Homo sapiens: one gene and its partners. The protein of the gene in region 3 purifies or fractionates together with the protein of the main gene of each other region. This does not show direct contact. Each region holds a gene or a part of one and is shown on either strand. Other genes may lie near its edges.

Region 1 (3,141 bases), on a different chromosome or scaffold from region 3:
CTCATTCATTCATTCACTCACTCGCTCACTCATTCATTCATTCATTCATTCATTCATTCATAGCTCACTGCAGCCTTCGGCTCCTGGGCTCAAGCAATCCTCCCACCTCAGCCTCCTGAGTACCTGAGACTACAGGCGTGCACCACCACGCCCAGCTAACTTTTGTATTTTTGAAGAGACGCGGTCTCACCATGCTGCCCAGGCTGCACCCTCCCCGCCCTCAACAATATCTTTTCCCTCCACCTTTCCTGGTATTAGAACCCCGACTCGGGAGGCACACGGCCGTTCAGAAAGGACTACATTTCCCAGGGTTCCTTGCGGCAGGAGCAGGGCCATGTGATTATATTCTGGCCAATGGGATGAGGGCAAAGGCCGGTCTATGCCCTCCAAGAAGAGGCGTGCACTTCCCGCTTCCTGTTCCCTTTTGCGGGAGCGGGAGCCACGTGTTTTATAACAAATAGCCAGGCAGAAGGTGTCCCAGAAGACAATGGCGCTGCGGAAGCATTCAATAAATATTTATTATAATTAAAAGACCGTAGCAATACCCCCACCACCAAGACCCTTCACCCAGAAATAGAGAGATTGGAATTGTAAACACCGTATCCAGTTCTGACCACCCTGAAAGCCAGGGCATCATCGCGCCCGTTTTGTCCTAAATGAAGGGCTCCCGGACAATGTCCTGAAAGTGGCAGATGACCTCATCTTCCACTGTCCACAGGGCACAGGGCAGACCGGGGTGCTCTATGGGGTCCTGGCCGATGCCTGGGTCCAGGGGTGTTCCCCAGGTGGTCAGGCAAGGACACGCGGTCATTCTGCCTCCTGCGTCTTGTCCTCGGGCGCCTGGGACCCTCTCTGGTTCCACATGTGGTTGTTCAGCCCCAGCTGTACCATCTGTGCGTGGTGGATAATGAGGGGTTGCAGCCCTGGGCTCTGAGGGGGTGCGGGTGAGGCCGTAGGGAAGGCTGGGGACTGCGGGAAGGGCAGTGACTGTGGAAAGGCTGCTGGCTGTGGGGAGGGCGGTGGGGGGGTGCCAGCCTGCCATGCGTGCAGGGGTGGCGGCTGCGGGCACCCCGGCCAAGTGGGAAAGGGTGGCGGGGCTCCCAGGGGCACCTGGCCCCCAAAGGGCATTCGAGCCCCATAGGGCGCCCCAGTCCCAAATGACATGTGGCTCCCAAAAGCCACCTGGAGCTGCTCCATCTGTGCCTGGTAGGACAAGTAGCTCTGGAGGTAGGCTGAGTAGGCTGCGTTCAGTGCCGCCGCCTGCATCCGCTCACCGTCCAGGTGTTGGCTCTGTTCCCGCAGGGCTCGGGTGTCCTGTTCCTTCCTCCACATGGCCTTTCGGGCCTGAAGCCTGTGGGGCTTGAAGGTGTTGGCCACCTTCCTGGCGAAGATCTGGGAGTGTTCGTCCAGCCGCACCAGCCCGGAGAGCAGGCTGGCCGTGTCGGAGCTGAGCTGGGCCGGGGAGCTCTCCAGGGGCAGGAAGGGGATGACACAGTCTGGCGACCCCTGTCGCGTGAGGTTGCTCATCATGGCTTGGTTCACCTGGTGCAGGCTCAGGCGACAGTCGAAGTTGGAGGTGAGAAGTAGGATGATGAAAGCTGAGTGGTCTATGGCGTCCTGCAGGCAGCTCAGCTCCCCGCGCCCCGGCACCTGGAAATCCTCGCAGAAGGTGGCCCCGTCGGGCACGCCAAGGGCCTCCAGCTTCTCCCGAACCCGCAGGGCGATGTGTTCGTCTGCCCTGGCGTGGAGGATCACAAAGTTATAGAATTTCTGTTCCGATGATGATTCCAGGGAGGAAGGGAACAGGGAGGAGGGGGTCAGGTGAGCTGAACAAGGAGTAGATGAAGGAGGAGGAGGAGGAGGAGGAGGGGATGTTTCTGGGGTGGTGGGAGTAGGTGGGCACGGCTTGGTATTTGGAGAGGTGGTATCTTCTACAGAAAGTTGGAGTGGCGTCTGGTCTTTGACAGAGCAGGGGTTTTTGACCGGCTCCAGAATAGGCAAGGGGAGAGACTGGGGGCCTGCAGACCCCTCGGTGCACTCCACTGGGTAGTTGGTGCTGGTTTCTGGAGCTGCGGGGGTATCAGGGAGGCCAGTGGAGGTTGCATCTGGGGCCACTTCGGGAAGCCCAGGAGGTGGGCTGCTTGGCAGCTCTGGTGGGCTGGCAATCTCCCCCGATGGCGGCCAGCTCATCTCCTCAGGCTCCTGGCAGCCACCGGGGACAGGCTCGGGCACCAAGCTGGCCTGGGGGTCGTCACAGAGCTTGCTGGGCCCATGTGGGCTGCGGTGCAGGCTGAGGAAGGGCATGGTAGGGGACTGGCTGATTTCCAAGTTGCTGGCCAGGGAGGCAGGGCTGCCAGTGGATCGCAGGGAGCACCCTTGGCTCCAGTCCGAAACACCGTCAATGGGGCGTGGGAGGCTCCTGGTCCCAGAGGGCAAAGCCGAGGATGGTGGGAGGCAGCCCAGATTGGACTGGAGCGTCCGGATGCTCCCTGGATCCCCAGCAATGTCCCACCCACACCGGTTTCGGGCCTCATCCTGAAGTTCCCCCAGCCGGTGGTCGTCCCTGGAGCTGAGGGTGCGGACGGCTTCCTGGTAGGCCACGTCCCGCAGCGAGGCGGGGCACAGCTTCTCCTCAGCCAGCAGGTGGTACAAGCGGGCCACAGCCCAGGACACATCTGGGGGCTCCTCTGGGTCCTCGGTGCTGTCCACGCCAGCCCACTGGCGGGCCACCAGCCGGGCCACCGCATCGGCCTTCAATGCCTCTAGAGAGATCCTGGCCTCAGTTTCCTGGCCCAGCTTCAGGAGAACCATGGCATGCAGGAGGTCCTGCCCCTGGCAGCCTGGGCGTGGGGTCTTCAGTTTGTGCTTCAGATACAAGAGCTTGTCCTGGCCTGCTGCACCTAGAATGTCGAAGGCGCTAGGAAGTGATGGGCCTGTGCAGGCCATGGGCACAGGTGGGTGCAGCCTCCGGCAGCAGAAGCTGGAGGTGGTGAAGGCATGTTCCACACTGCCCCCCGCCTTCTGCACGCCCAGTGTCCCCTACCCATTCACTGTTCCAGGTTCTGCAGGAGCTGCCCAAGCAGATCTGTAGGAAACAGGAGAAGCAAACACACTTACCCCCAAGAAAGGTCAGCACGGGAA
Region 2 (3,500 bases), on a different chromosome or scaffold from region 3:
CTGTTGTCCACTGACCTCTCCGTCTATCCATCTATCTATTGTCCACTGACCTCTCCATCTATCCATCTATTGTCCACTGACCTCTCCATCTATCCATCCATCTATTGTCCACTGACCTCTCCATCTATCCATCCACTGTCCACTGACCTCTCCATCTATCCATCCATCTATTGTCTACTGACCTCTCCATCTATCCATCCATCTATTGTCCACTGACGTCTCCATCTATCCATCTGTCTGTTGTCCACTGACCTGTCCACCCATCTGTCTGTTGTCCACTGACCTCTCCATCTTTCCGTCTGTTGTCCACTGACCTCTCCGTCTATCCATCTATCTGTTGTCCACTGACCTCTCCATCTATCCATCTATTGTCCACTGACCTCTCCATCTATCCATCCATCTATTGTCCACTGACCTCTCCATCTGTCCATCCACTGTCCACTGACCTCTCCATCTATCCACCTATTGTCCACTGACCTCTCCGTCTATCCATCCATCTATTGTCCACTAACCTCTCCATCTATCCATCCATCTATTGTCCACTGACCTCTCCATCTATCCATCCATTGTGCACTGACCTCTCCATCTATCCGTCTTCTATCCAGGCCTCCATTCATCCCCCATCTAGTCATCCTCCATCCATCCACCAGACATCCACTCCTGCCCCTACCCACCCATTCACTAGACACCAAAATCCGGTGACGAATTATTTGCAGATGGACCCCTGGGGACGTATGTCACGAATGTACATCCCCAGGTCCCATGGTCAGAGTCGGCAGGTGTGAGTGGGGCCCAGGAAACTGCATTTTCAGAAGACTCTAAATTAGAATCAGACATGGCTGCTGTGTGGATTCACCCTTCACCGTCACCCTGCAGAGGAGCAAGGTCCACAGGGTCGCTGTGTTCCCAGTGCGTTCCTGACCACACCGTAACGCCCCTTCCTTCCTCCCTCTCTCACCAGTTGCTTACATTTCCTCATCCCGGAAGCATGACAGCATTAAAGACGACTCGGAGGTGAGTGTGTGGAGCAGCTCGCTGCCATTTCCGACGTCCTCTGGAAAGTCTGTGAGCCTGTCTCTGGGGTAGTCACGGAAATCTAGATGTGAAATAGACATGGTCCGGGGTGTTGCTAACTAATCTTCACGGGTGTGGATGTCTAGAAGGAAGTCCTTATTCTTGGGTCTTACTTCAGGCATGTCCTTGATGAATACCTGCAGGCAGCTGTCCCCGCAGGTGGTCTGGGGACCACACCCTGCGGGGGAAGCCGTGCCCCACATCCTCTCCATTCAGGTGGTACAGTGGCCCAGGGGCTGGCTTTTGAGCTGCAATTTTTATCAAGTTGTGTCTGCACCATGCCTTCCGAATTGTGTTGCCTCATTTGGCCATCCTGGCAAACCCTCTGAAGCCCTTTCATGTCCTTCCCCAACTTGAGCCAAGAGGCTCAACTGAGCCTCACGTCTGTGGCCAGCTCTGCACCATAAACCCTGAGAAGGGAACAGAAGAGCTTGCTGCGTTCTCAGCCTCTGCTCGTAAAACCCAGGGAAGGACTGCACTAGCGAAGCCCACTCCTTTCCAGAGCACCAACAAGTGTCACCCTCACAACTCGTGCTCCTTCCTGGCCATCCTGTGTCTGGAGGGAGGCCGGGGCACTTAGAAAGCAGAATCTGAGGCTGAGCACGGCGACTCACACCTCCAATCCCAGCATTTTGGGAGGCTGCGCACATCGCTTGAGTCCAGGAGCTCGAGAACAGCCTGGGCAGCATAGCGAGACCCTGTTCCTACAAAAATAAATACAAAATAATTAGCTGGGCATGGTGGCACGGGCCTGTGGTCCTAGCTGCTTGGGAGGCTGAGGTGGGAGGATCGCCTGAGCCTGGGAGGTGGAGGCTGCAGTGAGCTGAGATCGCACCACTGCACTCCAGCCTGGGCGACAGAGGAAGAGTCTGTCTCAAAAAAAGCAGAATCCGGCTGGGCGCGGTGGCTCACGCCTGTAATCCCAGCACTTTGGGAAGCTGAGGCGGGCAGATCACGAGGTCAGGAGATGGAGACCATCCTGGCTAACACGGTGAAACCCCGTCTCTACTAAAAATACAAAAAAAAAAAAAGCTGGGCGTGGTGGCGGGCGCCTGTAGTCCCAGCTACTGGGGAGGCTGAGGCAGGAGAATGGCGTGAACCCGGGAGGTGGAGCTTGTAGTGAGTCGAGATCGTGCCACTGCACTCCAGCCTGGGCGACAGAGCCAGACTCCGTCTCAAAAAAAAAAAAAAAAAAAAAGCAGAATCCATTTTGCCGCACAGAACAGCACCTCCCAAGGAACCGCCTCCTCCACCCCGACCTCCTTGCCAGGTGTAGCTTGCGGGAGGCAGAGGCTTCTGTTCTTCCTCGGAGCGCCTTTCTCCTGGGTATTTCTAATAATTATTTCTAATAATGTGTGCCTGCCGGTTTGGGAGCTCTTGGCAGGCATTAGCTGCATTCGCTTTACCTTCCTTCCCCTGAGGGAGGGCACTGATCAGGAAGGATGGGCCCAGGCCCTGGGCCACATGTCCCTGTGGCCACCTCTTCAGCCCCACTGATAGGGCTGAGGGCCTGGGGGTCCCTCCCACCTGCAGCTGTGACCAGAGCCATGGTCTGTGGAACGAACAGCTTCTAGCTTTCTAGCACCTTCCTCAGAAGCACACAGCCTTAAATTCTTACCTTTCATGCCCCAGTTTAGATGGGAGTTTGGGGGTGGGATATGTGGGACGCAGAACTGAGACTCGAATCATGAGGCCCTGGGCTCTGAGGAGCAGGTCTCTGTTGGGACCGCATGAGTGATGCGTGGTCCTCTGAGTCTCCCGGGAACCCCCCTCTCACTTTCTGGGGTCTTGTTCTCCCTCCCTAGGACCTTAAGCCAGTTATCGATGGGATGGATGGAATCAAAATCTCTCAGGGGCTTGGGCTGCAGGACTTTGACCTAATCAGAGTCATCGGGCGCGGGAGCTACGCCAAGGTTCTCCTGGTGCGGTTGAAGAAGAATGACCAAATTTACGCCATGAAAGTGGTGAAGAAAGAGCTGGTGCATGATGACGAGGTAGGTGCCGCTTCTCATGGGGCCCGGGGGCCCGGGAACGCGCTGCCCTGGGGCCTCCTCCGGGCTTTAGCGGAATTAATCCATGCACGAGAGACCTAGCCTCACGTTGACGGAGTTTGTGCAAAATCAATAGTCATGCATCGTGTAATGACCAGGATGTGTTCTGGAAAGTGCCTGGTTAGGTAATGGCACTGTTGTGTGAACATCACAGTGTGCACTCCACAAACCCAAACAGCACAGCCAACTCCACAGCCAAGATGCACAGTGCAGCTCCTGCTCCCAGGCTGCAAGCCCGTACGGCTGTTAGTGCACTGCACACTGCAGGCAGTGAGGGGACCACCACGAGAGCACTCACGTGTCTAAGCTTAGAAAAGGTGAAGATGGGTATCGTGGTCTCTGCAACCTTCTCATGTATGGCCAACCACTGATACG
Region 3 (3,833 bases):
TTACATCTTTTCTATCTTCTTCTAGCCTCTTTTTGCAAACTTCATTTTGACAAAGAATTCCAGGCAGTCTACAGCTGATTTTATTTCAATACAACGATTAAAATGGAAACCATATATGAAGATGACAAAGTTGAGCAGGTCCCAAACTCTCACTTTTAAACAAATGCTTGGCTTAAGAATCACTTAATGACTTTCATTCTGCTATCTATGTGTCTGTGTATCTAGGTACTAATTATCTATCTTTATGATCTTTATTGCTAGAAATTCTGGTTCAATATCAGAGGTTAGTCCTAAGGAATTTATATTTTAAAATATTCTCCCAGTTTTCGTGCACAGACAGATTTGGGAATTACTGTTATAATGGAAAATGGAGAATAACCACCCACATTTAATATGGTTATTGGTTTTGTTCTTGAGATTTATTGCTAAGATTCATGATAGCCCAGGCAAGGTCAGATAATGTATTTTTATTTTACACTGTATAGTTGATTCTTCTCAATCCCACTAGATCAGACTCTTTGGGATACTAGGATTGGCCTATTTGATGGTGAGCTCACTACATCCATTTAGATGTTGTGTCCATGCAATCATTTTAGTTCTCCTAGTTTCTACCTATCACGTTGTCATTTTCCCTTCTTTATCATCCTGGGTAGCTGAGACCCCACATAAATATATACCAGAAAAATGTTGTGGTCTTTTCTAAACTCTCTGAGGCATCTGTTGTCAATGTGATGTTGTTTTTTGTTTCCAGTCCAAAATATATCAAAGTAAAATTTAACTCCACTTTTGCTAAGTATTCATCTTGCCTTGAGTACTAAGATTCCAAAAATGACTTTCCCCTCTGAAAAACACAGGATTTCCTTGCGAAAACTTGCTGGGCCACTGCCAATCTTCCCAGAAACTCCTTTTTCCTTATCGTTGAGGGGAATTGGGGAAGTGATCACTGACGGTTGAAATTCAGTAGTTTTGGTCTTTAAGCTGAGACCCTGAGTCTTCTGAGGAGTCTACTGCTCCCCAGTGGGAAACACCTGCTGTCAAAATTTTCCTGCTTGCAAAGAGCACTTTTGAAATTAATGGCAGGGGATGAATATCTGGCTAGTGCTGTGCTCAGCTGAGTTATTAATAGGGCCTTCTGAGTCCTCTCTACACATCATCTTTGGCTGAATTAGCTGTGGTTTCAGCACCTGAGAGTCTAGCACCACTAAAGGCAGGGAATACCTTTGCCAGTTTCTGGCATATTAACAGCTGAGATCAGATAAGTGAACAGCGATAGAGGTAGTGAGGTTTAGGATTCAGGTCTGCCACCGGGAGCGCACCTCTGGGCTCAGGTCTCTCATTTGTAAAATGGGACATTTAGGTCAGATCAGCATTTTCAAAAGTGTGACATGTTAGTAAATAAGATGATTTTATGTGGTTGACAGATGAATGTATTACCTTTAGTGGTTATATGTTTATTTTCATGGTTACTTTTATTTATAATAAATTTTGTGACTAGCTAAGAATCAATTATCTCTTTAAAATATATTTAAGTTTAAAATGTGGGCCAACTTAGGAAAAAAACGGGATGAAATGAATTATATAAAAGGTATGCAGATTTGGAAAAATTTTGAAGGTGTCACAAGAAAGATTGGCAGTCAGAAAGGAATGAACCAAACGGCTGCTGAGGGTCAGGCCAGCTCTCTGACATTCTAGCATGTTCACATCTCCAGGGCTGTTTCCTTACCTATAAATTGTGGCAATTGGAGTAAATGTCCATTCCAGGAATTCTATTCTATGATTAGAGGTGTAACTTCATCATCCAGATTTTCCAGCATCCTTAACATGTGGTTTTAGCGTTCTAAACCTGATGATGCTATATCAAAACGGGAGACTCATTCGTCAAGTCATGATGTATCCATGTATTTATAATATTTCCCATGTTCCCTCATTTCTGAAAAGGATTAAGCTATCAACCCCATTGAGTTATAGGTGAAAGGCTGTGGAAACAAGACATTGATAGTGAAATGGCTCCACCACTAACAGGCTGTTGAACAAAGGCAAATCTCTTGATCTCTTTGCTCTTTGGTCTCTGTTTATCTATGAGATAACGTTATTTTTACGCTGTCTTCTGTGAAAGTTTTGAGAATGAAATGAGACAGAGCCTCCAATAAAATTTAGGGAAGTGCTACATAAATGCAAGGAGTTATTATGATAACAGATTGAAAACTCCTCCAAGGAGGAGTTTCTCTTTTGCCCCATGTTATAAACTCAAGAATATCTTCCATTTTGCCTACATATTCCAAAAGCTTTTAAATTAAGCTATATGTCATTCTTACAGGAGTCTCCTCTATTTCAGCAATGTGTATACTTGGTCAGTTTTAATTATCTTAAAGGAGAAGAATACAGTTTCTCTAAACTCAAGCACTTTTGTGGACTAATCCTTGCAATTATTCTTTCTTCTTTCCCATACTTGACATTTAAAGTGATATCTCCCAGGCTCCTACACTGTTAGTCACAGAGGTACCATTCGACCCCTTGTGCCTCTTACCATATGTGAATGCTTGTCAGTTGAGAGTAAACTTTCTTCATAAATTTCACAGTTGTGGATTGATAAAAACAGAGAACTCTGGTTCCTCATTCCTTCCTGCTTTCTTTCTTGAAATGCCATTCATGATGGTCCCTTATATCACTATAGGGCTGCTATCATCCTTCATCCTTATGCCACTGCAAATAGCAACCAACAGTGTCCTTAGTGCCAGCACTCCCAGGCATGCCCCTTTCCAAGCAGCAGGGTCAAGCCGCTCCCTTCCTGAGCTGTGGCATCTGTCTCTAAATCATGCTTCCTCCTTGCCTGCTGCAGGCCCTTGTCTCTGCCCTTTACTTTTTCTGGCTCTTGCCACGGTTTTGAATAAAACTCTTCCAAATATCTGAAGCTCAATTCTGTTGCCATTCTAAGCTCTCTAAATGTCACCACAATCTTCCTTCCTTTGCATTTTCTTATTGTGCACTAAGTTAGTTCTTGCTTAGTAAGTCTTGTCTTTCTCTCTGCTTTGACCTGTCAGTATTCCAACTTCCTTATTTTTTGATGTTCATTTTCTCCTTGCTCTCTTTCTTCCTTTCTTGTCTGTGAACTCCATTAACCGCTTCTGCATGTGACCATTAATGTGCCTGTCTTTCTTCTCATGTATTAGAGAGAACAAAAGCTTTGGGAATCAGACAGATCTGTGTTCTGATCCTGTCTTATGGTATCTGTCTTGTTTGTCTCGGCTTAAAATGGGGATAATATCTACCTCTCAGTTTTGTTGGCAGTTCAGTACACGGAAATAAAGTTCTCACTTTCTTTTTTCTCCTTGAGAGTGTTCTTTATTTTACTCATCTGGCCATCTAATATTTATGAAGAAGCTACTCTGTGGTTGAAAAGGCACATGAAGCTGCAGAAGTAAATGACCAAGAAGTGCCCTCAAAGTTACGGAGTTCAGATTCATTTTGGCAAGAGAGGCATGTCAATACACACACACACACACACACACACACACACACACACACACACACAATGTTATGCCAAAATGCAGGGTGGTGGGGAGTGGAGGGTTGTTCTTCCTAGAAGCAATCAGAGAAGGCTTTACAGAGGAGGGCCCATTTGAGCTGGAAATTGTAAAAGAACAGCTCTGCAGATGGATCTTTAAATTCTTAACCTAAAAGAAGAGCAAAAATGTAAATGATAAATCTGGGAAGTAATAAGTAGAAGACCATGTATAGCAGAGTTGAGGAAAGAAACAATATAGTATAAATACTGAATTACATGAAAGCTAATAGTTAATTGGCATCAGTTGACCCTGACAAAGACATTTATC
Region 4 (2,866 bases), on a different chromosome or scaffold from region 3:
TGCTTTGTATAGCCTGTAAAATGCAATGTACAGTGAGGGAAAGAAAGTCTAAGGGTAGCAGTCAAATCTTCTGGCCTGAAACTGTACTTTTGGAAGGGAGAACTGTTAGACTTGCTTTATCTTCTTTATTCCAAGGCCATAAATAAGAAAATCAACGAGAGGCAAAACCATGTCTTCTTTTGCTATAGCGTTAGAATCCTGAAAGTCAGCCAGCTCTGACACTGAGTCTGTGATTTAATTAAACATGTTGAAGGCTCTCCAACAGCTTGACGTCAGGCCAGCTTCATATTCTTGGAAAGGGACAACAGCAAAAGGAGCTTATCTGTTTTAAAGTTCACTTACTGAGTTCAGCTGTCACGGCCACAGCATACCATTTGCCTTATAAAAATGGCCCACAACCTTCACAATATTTTAGGATTCATGGCAACTCATTTACCTAGGGCTTAGCCACCTGATAGCTTTACCTATCCCTATTTCCTGAACACAAAATCTAAACCAGTGGTTTGACAATGAGTAACTGAGACAGAACTAGAAAAATCTAGAACCTCTGCTGAACCCATCAAAAGTGACTGAGAATTAAGAAGTAAGCAAACAAGGCTTCCAACCAATTGAAATAAATACCATGAAGCAAACGCATAAGACAAAGGCCATACATCTAGTCATCAGGCACCTCCTCAGAACCTATTTGCTCTTCCTTCACACATATTTCTAACTGTAAAGGAAAGAAACAGACTTTTAGAGGAAACAAGAAGGAAAAAGGAGGACAGCAATAGAGAAAATGGAAATTTTGAGTAGACTGCAAAGCTCCAAAGCCCTGATATATGGGTTATTTAGTGTCAAAAACAGTCTATACACATCTCAATCTTTAAGAGCCTCACTGTATCATGGGACAATATTCTATTTAAAATGATGACCCTGTGCACCATACATAAAAAAACTATGCTTAGAAGACAAAAATATGTATATCAAACATTTTAGAAATATTTACATCCCAATGGTTAAAAAAAAAAACTTTTAGGAATTAAAAGGAATAAACCTTTGACCATCCAGAATATTTAGCTAAATCAAACAGTGTATATCCCCCTAGCTGACTTTTATTGTTTCATGAGCCTCTGGTGTTCAGAGAGTTTTTTTCACAGCTTTGTAAGTGACTTTCATGCTACAGTGCTTTGCATATAATGGCATGAACAGTGGAGGTGCCAACTTTCCAATGTGATGAATAAAACTAATAACTAGAATACAGATCAAATTCTGTTACAACAAATACTGCTACCATAAAAGTCACTTAAGCATCCCTGTTAGTTCTAAGCCCCTGTCGATTGCCCATTTATTTTAGGCAATAGTCATTCAACAAAATTGGAGCATAATAAAAAGAAACTGGACCTCAGCGCAAGTTGAGTGTTACACAATTTAACCTGTAATAACAGGTTCTCACTTGTATTTCTCCAGCTCTTTGCTGTAAGAAGAATAAACGTTATGTAGATATAATACCAGCGTGACAGCTTGTGGTTGGTGGTTTCTAGAAGAAATAATTCAGAAGCAAAAGACACATGAAGTTATGTGGCAGTTCCTCACTAGGGAATTTGGTCTCCAGGGCCACTTTTGACCTTAATCCATGTTGGAGCCATCAATCAAAGAATTGCTTGCATCTAATAATGGTGTAATGCCAATACTAAGCCCTGGAACGAAGATAGGATTCATTTCTCATGGATTATTGAGCACTCTGGGGTAACCTGGCCCTGATCTGATGACGCTAAGATTTAAAAACCCAGATGCATGTGACTAGAACTATCTTTTCTCCCATGATGCACTGCTTTCAACACTGCATGACTGTAAAAACATGTGCCACGCTGATTATATATAGAGATGGTCTAAATCAGCTGCATCCCATTTGGTACCCAGGCAAGGATTTTTCCATACCTATCTTTTTGCTGGTGGTAATGATGAGTTTTGTCACTTGCTATAACATTCTCTGTCCGTCTTTTTTCTTTTATGTAAATACTTTTGTGACTTCATTGTAACCAGCATTTTGTAATACTCTTAACAGCAGAGGGGATTAAATCATGATTCACTTCTGAACAGTACAATCAGCAGTAGGAAAACGAGGAGGGAGGGAGAGGGAAATTGTCCACCACTTCCCAATGATAATGCCTGGCTCGGACCCCAGATTCACATCATACTTGAAGTTCATAAATTCTGGGCACTGCTCAGCTTGAGGAGGCAGGCATTGCTCCTTCATATTTCAGGGTGAGACAAATGCTCTGTTGAAGCCATGCCACTACAGGATACATTCACCTCTGCTTGCTTTCCTCCCTAAGCCAGAGTGTAGTTAAACATTTATATGTCCCAGGCCAGGAGATCAAATTAAGAGGAGGTTAGCTACTTTCCCTGGCTCTTAAAAACATTTGAGTCCAAGTATGGTTCTCTGGCTTGAGGGTGGCCATTTGTTGCCTCACTGTTTTTATTAGGACATCTGGAGATTAGAGGTGTTAATTGGAAGTAACTTTTCTATATTTGGTTTCTCTCCACACATTATGAGACCTTTTAGACCCAGTTGGATGGCTGTATCCTAGTATGAAATTCAGCTTCTAAGTAGGAAGAACTATGATAGAGGAACAAGATTGCTCTTTGACTTGGTGATAGTAGGGCAATAGGGAGTGTCAGTAGGGTAGTTTCAGGTGGGGAGGATGACAAACCACTGATAACAATAAAAATGGGTATTTCTCAACACTCAAGCCAATTTCCCATTTGATAACAAGTAGGTTCTGATCTATTTTCCCCAAATTAATATTTTCCCTGGAAGATTCTGACCTGTCTGATCAAATAAAGGCATTCCTCTGAGAGTATACCTAGCCCACTTGTGGCC
Region 5 (3,500 bases), on a different chromosome or scaffold from region 3:
CCAAGCTGCGCATCCTATGCTACTTCCAGAGACTCAGCATACATGATAGCATCCTGAAGGGCCCGAGACGGCCGGCAGCTGACACACCTATTTCTCTTCAACCTCACATTTCTCAAACTTCTCTGGCCACAATCCTATTATTTTATATATATACATATACACTTTCTTTTGTTTTGGGGTTTTTTACTTTTTTTTTTAAGAGATAAGGTCTTACTCTGTCACCAGGTTAGAGTGCAGTGGCATGATCATAGCTCACTGCAACCTTGAACTATCAGGCTCTGGCGATCCTCCTGCCTCAGCCTCCCAAGTAGCTAGGACTACAGGCGCACACCACCACGTCAGGCTAATTTAAAAATTTTTTTGTAGAAATGGACATCTCTCTATGTTGCCCAGGCTGGTCTCAAACTCCTGGGCTCAGGCAATCCTCCCACCTCAGCCTCCCAAAGTGCTGGGATTACAGATGTAAGCCACTGCACCTGGCCTACATGATCTCTTGACACCCCACAAAATTAATGTTCCTCGAAAAGTTTTCAAAATGCTCCCAGAAGCAGTCTTCTCCTTTCCCTAAACTAAAAGAAAAGAAAAAAGACTAAGAAGCCCTCTATAATACTCTACCCCAACAAAAAATAACATTTCTTCCAGCAGATCTTCACTGTAACTTAAAAATTAGAGTGAGCTCGCTGGGGACGAGAGAGGTTAGTGGGATGAAGCTGACTTACCAGCCGGAGAGGGGTTCAGAGTTCGGGGCTCCGGGTCCGTATCACTGGGTTCAGAGATGCTTGCCCGCCTCACACGGACTCGGCTCTGAGGTTGGTGGAGGGAAGAAGTTCTGTGAAAGCCAAGCCTCCAGCCCTGCCATCCACGGCTGGCCATCCAACCTATCAAAGAAACCTTGACCACGTGCAAGCACAGTTCCTACCATTCCCTGCCCACTGTAGCCCAGAGTCCCCGGAGAGACACCCAACCGCAGGCACAAGGCAGCGGAGGACGCTGCTTACCTTAACCTTATGAAGCAGGGGCTGGGTCACAACACCCCCTGAGGAGAGGCTGTCACTCAGGTCAGGGCCACCTGAGGTTTCAGGAGTACTCCCCACTGGCCAGGGCAAAGGTGGGCCCATGGGGCTGAGCCCCAAGGATGTGTGAGTCTGGCACGTGACGACAGGAAGGAGAGAGAGGTTGGAGCCTGGGAGCACCTCTGCCTTGCCCAAGCCAGCCAAAAGGCGGGACCCTACTTTCCACTGACCAGGAAGACCCTGTCACCAGCCAGCCCTCTGTTCTCTCCCCAGCGCCCTCCCTTCGTGTCTTCCCCCAACAGTCCTCGCCCCCCAACCACACCGACCTGAAAATCTGTCAGTGACAAGACCTTGCCATCGAGAAGGAACTGAGCAAAGACAAAAAGGGGGAGGGAGTATGTGGTAGGCCCATCCTGCTGAGCTCCAGGTATTAAGAACACAGTAAGCAGGGTCCAGGTCCTTGGCCCCTCACCCAGGGATGGCAAGAGGGTGCAAGGTGGGGGAGGACTGGGCAGGAAAGGGGAAGAAGAGTGGACACAGGACGATCACTCACGCCAGTAGCAGCATCCCTGGCCCGGGGTGACAAGTACTGGGCAGTGGCTGCTCGGTGCTCAGGGTGGAACCAAAGAGGGTTCCCCTCCAGGTAGAGCTGAGGGGCAGGAAGGGGAGAATGAGGAGGGCCTGGGGCCCTGGCCCTCCCTGTGTGAAGAAGGCACTGACCAAACCAGCATGGGGGGGTACGTGCAAGGGTGGTTCCCAGGCCCCTGATGCATTCCCATCTCACCTTGCGGAGCTCAGCCAGCAGCCACAGTGGTGACAGCTCCCGGTGTCCTTCCAGCAGGTTGTATGCCAAATCCAGGTGCCGCAGATTCCTCAGCTGCTCTAGGCCTGGGGTGGACGCAAGAAGGAAGGAAGAGCATGTGGATGAGTACACGCAAGTGAGTGTGGTGCATGCACTGGGGGAGGTTGCAGCAGAAAGACCGGCCAGAGCACCCCTGCACTCCCCATAAGCCCTCTCAAGGCTCTAGAGGCACATGGTCCCCAGGCCAGCCCCAGCCTCACTCTCCCCCTTCCCCTCCATGCTTGCCCCATCACACACCCCCACTCACCATGCAGGCTCCGAAGCTCATTGCCTCGCAGTATCAGGACCCCCAGAGCAGCCCCTGAGGGTCCCATTCTTGGCACCAAATGCAGGCGATTATAGGAGATGTCCAGATGGTGGAGCTCACACAAATCCTGGCAGGGGTACAGGGGAGAAAAAGATTATCTCGTTGACCAAACTCTAGCCAGGGTCCTCTGAGACCTCTTCTGGACTAGGCCTCAACCTTGGCCTATATAAAACTGCACACACTCAGCACAAATGATTTCATCCACCCCTACTCCCACGTTAAAAGACTTGAACAACACCAGCACTGTTCCTAACAGTTCAAGGCCACACCCTGAGCATGGCAACTCCAAGCCCCTTAAATTCCTGCCTGGGAAAAGTCAAAGCTGCCAAAAGAATTTCCCATTTGTTTCAGCCAACTCCTGAAGATAGGGCCCCGTCTCCCAGTCTCTGTGAAAGGGTAAGGGCCTTATTTTGGTAAGTGCCAGTTAGTTAGCAAACTCAGATGGGTTTCATGTGGACCAACCTGATTTCCACTCCCCCAGCTCTGCTCAAGGCCCTACCATTCCCCTGCCCACTCCCCGCCGCCCTCTTTTAAAATGCCCAGCCGGCCAGGTGCAGTGGCTCATGCCTGTAATCCCAGCACTCTGGGAGGCCAAAGAGGGGGGATCACTTGAGGCCAGGAGTTCGAGACTCACCTGGCCAACATTGTGAAACCCCGTCTCTACTAAAAATACAAAAATTAGCTGGGCGTGGTGGCACACACTTGTAATCCCAGCTACTTGGGAGGCTGAGGCAGGAGAATCGCTTGAACCCGGGAGGCAGAGGTTACGGTGAGCCAAGATCGTGCCATTGCACTCCAGCCTGGGCAACAAGAGCGAAACTCTGTCTCATTAAAAAAAAAAAAAGGAAAAAAGTCCACTGACACTTCTGTATCTTCCAGGCTCTGTTCAGGGAAATAACCGTGACTGCAACACTGTCTATGCTATCACCACAAACATTCAAACTACAAACGAAGAAATCCATCGGTTGCCACTGCTATCCTCATTCCACCATCTAAAGAAACATAGAGCTCAACACCTAGAAATCTCAACTGGCTGCCCTCTGGACTCAGAAAATGGATTTATAGTCTGCTCCAACCATTCATCTTTGTTTCCCTTTTTGTTTCCATAGAAATGTCCCCCATTAAATGCCTGGTCACTCTCACCATCCAGCAAAATTCATCCACTACCAAGTCCCAATAAATGGCTCAGTTGGTTTTTAGTGAACAAAAGGTGATCAAGGAAGAAAAGGATTTATATTGTTCAGGGGAAAGAGGAGTGTCTCTTCTTTCCCTGAATTAGAGGAGGTTCTCACCTTGATCAAACCCTACTCAGGCTCCT
Region 6 (3,500 bases), on a different chromosome or scaffold from region 3:
TTAGCACCCCCAATCTAGGGACTGATTTGCCAAAGCTCTAGCCATTAATGTTGTCCTAGAGTGCCTATGAAGTTGAAAGTGCAGACAATAGCTTTATTTAGCTTGGAGGAAGCTAAGAAGATCAAATCAGCTGGGAAAAGCCTATGACCTTAGAGACCTAGTCCAGAGGTGTCTGGTTATAAACTCAAAGGAAATAAAGGTATTTCTTTGGACATAGCAATCTTTAGTGATTGATTTTTTTCTAATAAGTTCCTTTTTTTTTTTTGCCATAGATAAAGCCAAAGACCAGACACATTTCAACGCCACGACAGTCACCTGGTGACTGAACTATCGAAAAGATCAGCATATTAGGGGAAAGGTTAATCTGCTCTGTTGATCAGCTATTAGGAACCTACTCCACCACCATATTCCTTTCCACCCTACAGACTCAGTTTTCCAATTCCATAGCCTAGGTACCATTTAGTGTGTAGATAATATATGTTAGGCACCTTTGTACCCATAGCTGAAGTTACATGGAGGGTGTGTTCCAGTTCTATCTCATAACCCCTCTTTCTTGCTCCTCACCTTGTGAGCAGCAATAGCTTCCTTCTGCATGTTCCTCAGGGTCTGAAGCTCCTTCAGAGTTGTCTCCAGTTGACCCTGTTGGATGGCAAGCTCCTCCTGGGAATATCAAATAGAATTAACCCAGACTAACTCGGGAGATGAAGGACCATAAAGGACATCTTCCCCAAGGCCCCAGTGTGCAAGAAAAAAGCAAGCTCTTGCTGCAAAAATCTTCCCCTTCCCCTGTATCATAGTTCTTGTCTCGTTCAAGAATTGTGAAAAAGAAAAGAAAAGGCCGGGTGTGGCAGCTCACATCTGTAATCTCAGCACTTTGGGAGACTGAGATGGGAGGATCACTTGGGCCCAGGAGTTTGAGACCAGCCTGGGCAACATAGTGAGACCCATCTCAAAACAAAGAAAAAAAAAGAATTATGGAGTAAATTACAGCTTAAAACTTAGTTTTTCTCTCTTAGTAGCTAGCTACAGGGATTTGAAGAAGGGAATAGAACTCTACACATTTTCCACTCTAGTTATATACTGTTCTCAGCATCTATCATTTTACTTGTGTTGTTCTCACTTGGAACATTTGTTTCTTCCTTCTGCCCTTCAAAATCCAAATGATTTCCCAGTTCAAGTCCTTTCCCTTTCTTTCACTATATGTCCCCTATTTCATTTTTCTCTAATAGTCTCAGAAATTCTAAACCCTTAAGAATTACAAATGTGACAAAATTTAACTTTTAACACGAGGCTATCTTAATATTGCTTCTGTTGTTTTCTTCATTTTAAACTTAACCAAATTTTGAATTTTTTATAACAAGAGCAATATCTTATCTATCCATATTCTACACAGTGTTTAGCAGAGTGCTACCATGGCAGAGTTTAGGTACAGATTTGATTGAGGGAGTAAGCCAGGGCTCCTCCACTGTTCCTTTCCTATAAGCAGCAACTCTAGAAAAAGAACTTTGCAAGATACGTTGTACTTTCTGAGCAGTCTGGGCTTTCTAATCATCATTTGAATAAAGGGATGGGGTTGGAAGAAAGAAGAAGCCCTATGAAATATTTTTCCTAGTTTTTCTAAGGGATTGTTCAAGGCCCAGGGCTCACCCACCGTGAAGAAATGGACAGCATCAGAGATTTGCAGGAACTCCTTAGACTGCCCCACAGACAACCGAGCATCCTTGCATTGAAAGCAGATCAGTTTCCCATCTGGTTTACTGAACAGTTTCAGGTTCTCTCCATGCTCTGGGCACTGTGGATGGCCCTTGAGTAAGGGTAACTTCTTAATCTTCTCTACCAACTTGTCCAGTACAGGGTTGAATGTACAGTTGTTATACTGACATAGCATCTTACACTCAGGACAGAATGTTTCCTTTGCTTGCAGCCTCCAAAAGTCTTGGATACAGGCTTCACAGAAGTTGTGGCCACAGCTTAGCATCAGTGGGTCTCGGAACCAATCATTGCACAGAGGGCAGTGTAGCTCCATAGTAATATCTTGTATCACCACTTTAGAGGGTAGGTGGGTGATTGAATCATTCATTTCAACATAGTCGCCTGGATCGATGTTGGAGGAGGGGTTGGTGGATACCTTTAGAAAAGAACAGCTAAAATGAGTTTATCTTTCTTGTTGCCCATTTTAACACTCCAGGATGATGGCGCCATTCCTAAAGGAGCTGAAAATTGGTACAACTAAAGTAAAAGCACATAATCTCTCCTTTGAAAGTGAACCAGTAACTTGAGTGTTTTCTGAAATTATAGCGTATGATGCTATTTAAACTTTAATAAAGAATCAAGGCAGAGGAAGAAACAGTACTAAATCAAAGAAATGTACTTTGTTGTACATCTCTCTCTTTACCCACTTTCCCCAAGTGTCTTTTGAAAGTTTTATTTTTCAACTTCTGCTCTACTAGTTATTACCTTTATTTTATTTTTGTTTTCTAGAAATTATATACAAAGAATTGGAAAATCAATCAGATTCCTTAGTCAGTAGTGTGATATCGTCAACCATCCAGGGTCCCCTTCACTCCTTTTTAAAAAAACACATTTCAGGCCAGGCGCAGTGGCTCATGCCTGTAATCCCAGCATTTTGGGAGGCCAAGGCGGGCAGATCACGAGGTCAGGAGATTTAGACCATCCTGGCTAACACAGGATGGTTAGCCATCTCTACTAAAAATCTCTACTAAAAATACAAAAATTAGCTGGGTGTGGTGGCAGGCGCCTGTAATCCTAGCTACTTGGGAGGCTGAGGCAGAAGAATTGCTTGAACCCAGGAGGCAGAGGTTGCAGTAAGCCAAGACCACGCCATTGCACTCTAGCCTGGGCAACAACAATGACACTCCATCTCAGAAAAAAAAAAAAAAAAAGGAATGACCAACAATGAACTGAGCCTAAGAGATCCACAAGACACTATCAAACAGACATAATAAGAATTTCAGAAAGAAAGGAGAAAAATGCAGAAAGAATGTTTGAAGCAGCCGGGCACTGCGGCTCAAGCCTGTAATCCCAATACTTTGGGGTGCCGAGGCAGGTGGACCACCTGAGGTCAGGAGTTAGAGACCAGCCTGGCCAACATGGTGAAACCCTGTCTCTACTAAAAATACAAAAAATTAGCTGGTCATGGCGGCAGGCACTGGTAATCCCTGCTACTTGGGAGGTTGAGACAGGAGAATTGCTTGACCTGGGAGGTGGAGGTTATAGTAAGCTGAGATCACTCCACTGCACCCCAGCTTGGGCAACAAGAGTGAAACTCTGTCTCAAAAAAAAAAATTTTTGAAAAAGTAATGGCTGAAAACTTCCAAAATATGATGAAATTTTACATCCAAGAAGCTCAACAAACTCCAAGCAGGATAAATTCAAAGAGATCCACAATGAGACACATTATAATTGAAGTGTCCAATGACAAGGAAGGAATCTTGAAAGCAGCAAGAGAGAAATGACTCTTCACATACAAGGGATTCTCA
Region 7 (3,500 bases), on a different chromosome or scaffold from region 3:
ATATGATACAGTGCCAGGCATGAAGCACTCAATAAATGGTAGCTATTATTATTTTTCCATACTTTCTTCAAATATCTAAATTCTAACCAAGCTGGATTGTCTTCTTTTACTCCTTCCTCCCCTCCCACCTTCTTCTTTAATATTTGGATCCACTGCTTCTCAACTCTTTTAGGATCAAAAATCCATTTCTAAATGTGACTAAAAAAAAAAAAAGACTATGTACCCAGAAAAATGCATATTTGCATAGAGACCTTTCACATATGTTAGAGTTTCTACCCCCTGAAGCCCATTCAGATTAATAATGGGATGAGAATCCCTCCTTTAAGACAAGTTACACCTAAGCTAATGCTGAATCTTTTATACAAAAAGGACTGAAATAAGCTTCAGTTGCATCTCAGAAGAAATATAAACTCACTATCCTAGAGTTGAAAGAAATGAAAGGAATGAAGAAAGATGGGGAGGAGGCCACAGAAATTTGTTTCTACCTCACTTCTCCCCTTCTCCATATCAGAACCATTAATGCCACGGCAGGCCTTACCCTTAAAAAGAAAGCAGAACAGAGGTTATGGTGGCTACCTAGAAAAGGGTTAACACAGCAGGCCTGAGACTACTGTCCTTAAAAAGGCCTGCCTGTCTTTGGCTGGTATCTGAAAACTTAACTGGTAAACAGTTCCCTACACTGATATAAACCTTTCCTTATATAACAGTGGCTCACTACTGAAGTAATGTGGTTTAATTATAACATATGCTTTCCTTTTGGGAGTATGAAATAATTTTGGTACATGAGGGTGCCGAAATGACTAACCTCCGATGAAAACCTTAGGAGCTGAGTCTCTAACAAGCAGCTTGTTGCTGGAGGAATTAAATGTGCCCAGTAGAGTCTACTGGGAATGAACTAGTGGAAAAACGTGAGCCTGGTTTCCTTCAGACTTCATACCATGTACCATTTCCTTTTGTGATTTTGCTTTATCCTTTCATTGTAATAAATCTTAGTTGTAAGGTGTTTTTTTGTTGTTGTTGTTGTTTTTTTAAATAACAAATCCCTATCACAGCTGGAGCTTTTACAAAGAATCTATTCTCGCAACAAAGAATTTGACCTCACCCTGCTTGGACTGGCTACATTTTTCTCTGCCAGGTCTACTTTGGTCAAAACGAATATGGTTCTCCTTCCATGAGGGTCCATTTGACTGACCAAGTCTGTAACAATACTGCGTTCAGCATCCACAGATCCATCTGAAAAAAATAAAAAAATGACACTGTGGAATTTTAAGATGTAAAGTAGACTTTTAAAACTCAGTACAAATTATACCCCTGTGTCTACATTATAGCAAGAAAGATTTTAATACATTTACGTTATTTACTAAAAAGAAATCCTAGCCGATAAAAATTTCAATGATGCTTATGTAAAACTTATCAAAATAATTTCAACTTCAATTTAATTTACTAATAAAATGAATACGAAGAGAAGGCAAAAATGCATTTATCTTGTATGTTTACATAACACAAACTATTTAATGCAAAGCTTGGATTGCTAAAGAAGAAAACATATCAGTACATTAAAATCTTTTGATATGATTTACCTTGAATACACAGTATGATGGCATTAGGATTCTGCATGTAAGCTTTGCTGATACTGAAAATAGTTTCCTTTGTGTCAGGAGCCATGCCTGATGTCACAGTCTTAAAGAAAAAGGTTTTAAATGTCATTATAAATGCTTCACACAATAAGAATAAAATAAAATACATGTTTTGTATATACTTACATTAATCACACCTGGTAAGTCAACAAGCACCATCCTCTGTAGTCCAGGGCCTTTTACATTTAAGGATATGGTCTACTCAGGAAAAATAAAAATAAAACAATGCTAAAGTTTGGGGGGAATTTGTCAAGAATTTTTTTTGGTGAAATGTATTCTAAAAATTCTATATCTCATCCATTCAGATAAGACGCTCACAAAAATGGTATTCTTTCTCTGATCCTAAAAGTAATTATTCTGGAAAATTACCCACAAAATGATATATTATTTGGATTTTTTTTTAAAAGCTCTACATATCTAGATAGCAGCAATCTAAACATCAATACCTAGATTTTGATTTATTTGAAATCATAAACATTTAATTTCCATAAAACGTCACTGAAATGAATTGCAACCCTTACCTCAGGGCTAACGGTACAGCCTTCTTTCACATTTTTCCTCATTCGAAGTTCTATTTCATGTCTTAATGCTGCAAGCTAATGGAAAACACAAAATCCTAAGAAAATCTAAGAAAATCTTAATTCACAAATATTCTTTAACTGTCTTTTATAAGCTCATCCAGGTTATAAAATTACACATATCAACCTTAGATGAATTTTACTTACATCTTCTTCTTTGGTAAGATCAAACTCCCGAGAACTATCTTTAAATAGGGCCACATGGTGAGGACCTTCACTCAGAGTCACCTGATAGTAACAGAAAACTGAGAGGTAATGATGTATTTATAAGTAATATTAATTCCCACAGCCCGTATGTGGTCTAGACAGGGCTACTGCATTGCACAAATCCAAGAGTCCCTTCACACTACTGCTGGGGCACCCCCTGAAGCTGTCAACATGGTAGTTCTGACAAGACAATAATTTTGTATTTGTATTGTTTGTATATATGTCATATATGTTGTGATTTCCCAACAAGAATGCTGGTTCCTTTATATCGCTTATGACCTAAAATGCTGCTGCCTCTTTCTTTCCCCAGTCAATGCTATACACAGCACTAAGCCCAAAATCATCTCTCTAAAACTTGAAACACTAAAAGGAAACCTTGCATTTAACCTCAAAGATGAATTTAGGTAAAGGACAATTCATTCATTCAACCTCTATAGAGAGTGAACTATGTGTCAGGTGTTGTAGGTGGGGAAACACAGAGCTGACTGTCCCAGTTTTAGACCTCATCACATGCTGGGAGAAATATACACAGACATAATAGAAGAGAGTGACAAAACCTAGGGTGCCACAGAAGAGAATGGAACTGATGATAAGGGAGCTACGACAGGCTTCACTCAAGGAGTGATATTTGGGTAAGAAATTTTGTTTTGTTTGTTTTTTTGTTTGTTTTGAGACCGAGTCTCATTCTGTCGCCCAGGCTGAAGTGCAGTGGCATGATCTCGGCTCACTGCAACCTCCACTTCGCGGTTTCAGGTGATTCTCCTGCCTCAGCCTCCCGAGTAGCTGGGATTACAGATGCCCGCCACCACACCTGGCAAGTTTTTTGTACTTTTAGTAGAGACAGGGTTTCGCCATGTTGGCCAGGCTGGTCTTGAACTCTTGACCTCAGGTGATCCGCCCTCCTCAGCCTCCCAAAGTGCTGGGATTACAGGCATGAGCCACTGCACCCAGCCAAGAAATGTTATAGCAATGTATATTAACAGTCAGTGGTTTCACAAGAACTTCTAAATGCCTAATTGACACCTTTCTAGCTTCTCTATAGTTATTTTACTTTAAAAATACAATTCCTTCTACTGAG

Evidence for each region.
Region 1: the proteins of TLR4 (region 3) and TICAM1 purify together in Homo sapiens (affinity purification with western blotting; 3 studies listed by BioGRID). This does not show direct contact.
Region 2: the proteins of TLR4 (region 3) and PRKCZ purify together in Homo sapiens (affinity purification with western blotting, with the first as the bait; one study listed by BioGRID). This does not show direct contact.
Region 4: the proteins of TLR4 (region 3) and TRIM44 purify together in Homo sapiens (affinity purification with western blotting; one study listed by BioGRID). This does not show direct contact.
Region 5: the proteins of TLR4 (region 3) and STK11IP purify together in Homo sapiens (affinity purification with mass spectrometry; one large-scale study listed by BioGRID and IntAct). This does not show direct contact.
Region 6: the proteins of TLR4 (region 3) and TRIM69 purify together in Homo sapiens (affinity purification with western blotting, with the first as the bait; one study listed by BioGRID). This does not show direct contact.
Region 7: the proteins of TLR4 (region 3) and OPA1 purify together in Homo sapiens (affinity purification with western blotting, with the first as the bait; one study listed by BioGRID). This does not show direct contact.

Annotation. Positions count from the first base shown.
Region 1 is NC_000019.10:4,815,432-4,818,572, forward strand, and holds the end of TICAM1 (TIR domain-containing adapter molecule 1), read right to left. Parts: intron 3,086-3,141; 5' UTR 3,048-3,085; coding exon of another isoform or gene 3,044-3,047; 5' UTR 2,947-3,043; coding exon 808-2,946; 3' UTR 501-807; downstream 1-500.
Region 2 is NC_000001.11:2,147,911-2,151,410, forward strand, and holds part of PRKCZ (protein kinase C zeta type), read left to right. Parts: intron 1-961; coding exon 962-1,014; intron 1,015-2,879; coding exon 2,880-3,068; intron 3,069-3,500. UniProt on the Homo sapiens protein: Calcium- and diacylglycerol-independent serine/threonine-protein kinase that functions in phosphatidylinositol 3-kinase (PI3K) pathway and mitogen-activated protein (MAP) kinase cascade, and is involved in NF-kappa-B activation, mitogenic signaling, cell proliferation, cell polarity, inflammatory response and maintenance of long-term potentiation (LTP).
Region 3 is NC_000009.12:117,721,403-117,725,235, forward strand, and holds the end of TLR4 (toll-like receptor 4 isoform A precursor), read left to right. Parts: 3' UTR 1-3,333; downstream 3,334-3,833.
Region 4 is NC_000011.10:35,812,775-35,815,640, forward strand, and holds part of TRIM44 (tripartite motif-containing protein 44), read left to right. Parts: 3' UTR 1-2,866. UniProt on the Homo sapiens protein: May play a role in the process of differentiation and maturation of neuronal cells. May regulate the activity of TRIM17. Is a negative regulator of PAX6 expression.
Region 5 is NC_000002.12:219,604,357-219,607,856, reverse strand, and holds part of STK11IP (serine/threonine-protein kinase 11-interacting protein), read right to left. Parts: intron 2,250-3,500; coding exon 2,123-2,249; intron 1,902-2,122; coding exon 1,798-1,901; intron 1,663-1,797; coding exon 1,567-1,662; intron 1,382-1,566; coding exon 1,340-1,381; intron 1,146-1,339; coding exon 999-1,145; intron 879-998; exon of another isoform or gene 874-878; coding exon of another isoform or gene 805-873; coding exon 720-804; intron 1-719. UniProt on the Homo sapiens protein: May regulate STK11/LKB1 function by controlling its subcellular localization.
Region 6 is NC_000015.10:44,753,528-44,757,027, reverse strand, and holds part of TRIM69 (E3 ubiquitin-protein ligase TRIM69), read right to left. Parts: intron 2,129-3,500; coding exon 1,652-2,128; intron 661-1,651; coding exon 565-660; intron 1-564.
Region 7 is NC_000003.12:193,641,708-193,645,207, reverse strand, and holds part of OPA1 (dynamin-like GTPase OPA1, mitochondrial), read right to left. Parts: intron 2,444-3,500; coding exon 2,363-2,443; intron 2,234-2,362; coding exon 2,159-2,233; intron 1,836-2,158; coding exon 1,764-1,835; intron 1,681-1,763; coding exon 1,581-1,680; intron 1,234-1,580; coding exon 1,103-1,233; intron 1-1,102. UniProt on the Homo sapiens protein: Dynamin-related GTPase that is essential for normal mitochondrial morphology by mediating fusion of the mitochondrial inner membranes, regulating cristae morphology and maintaining respiratory chain function.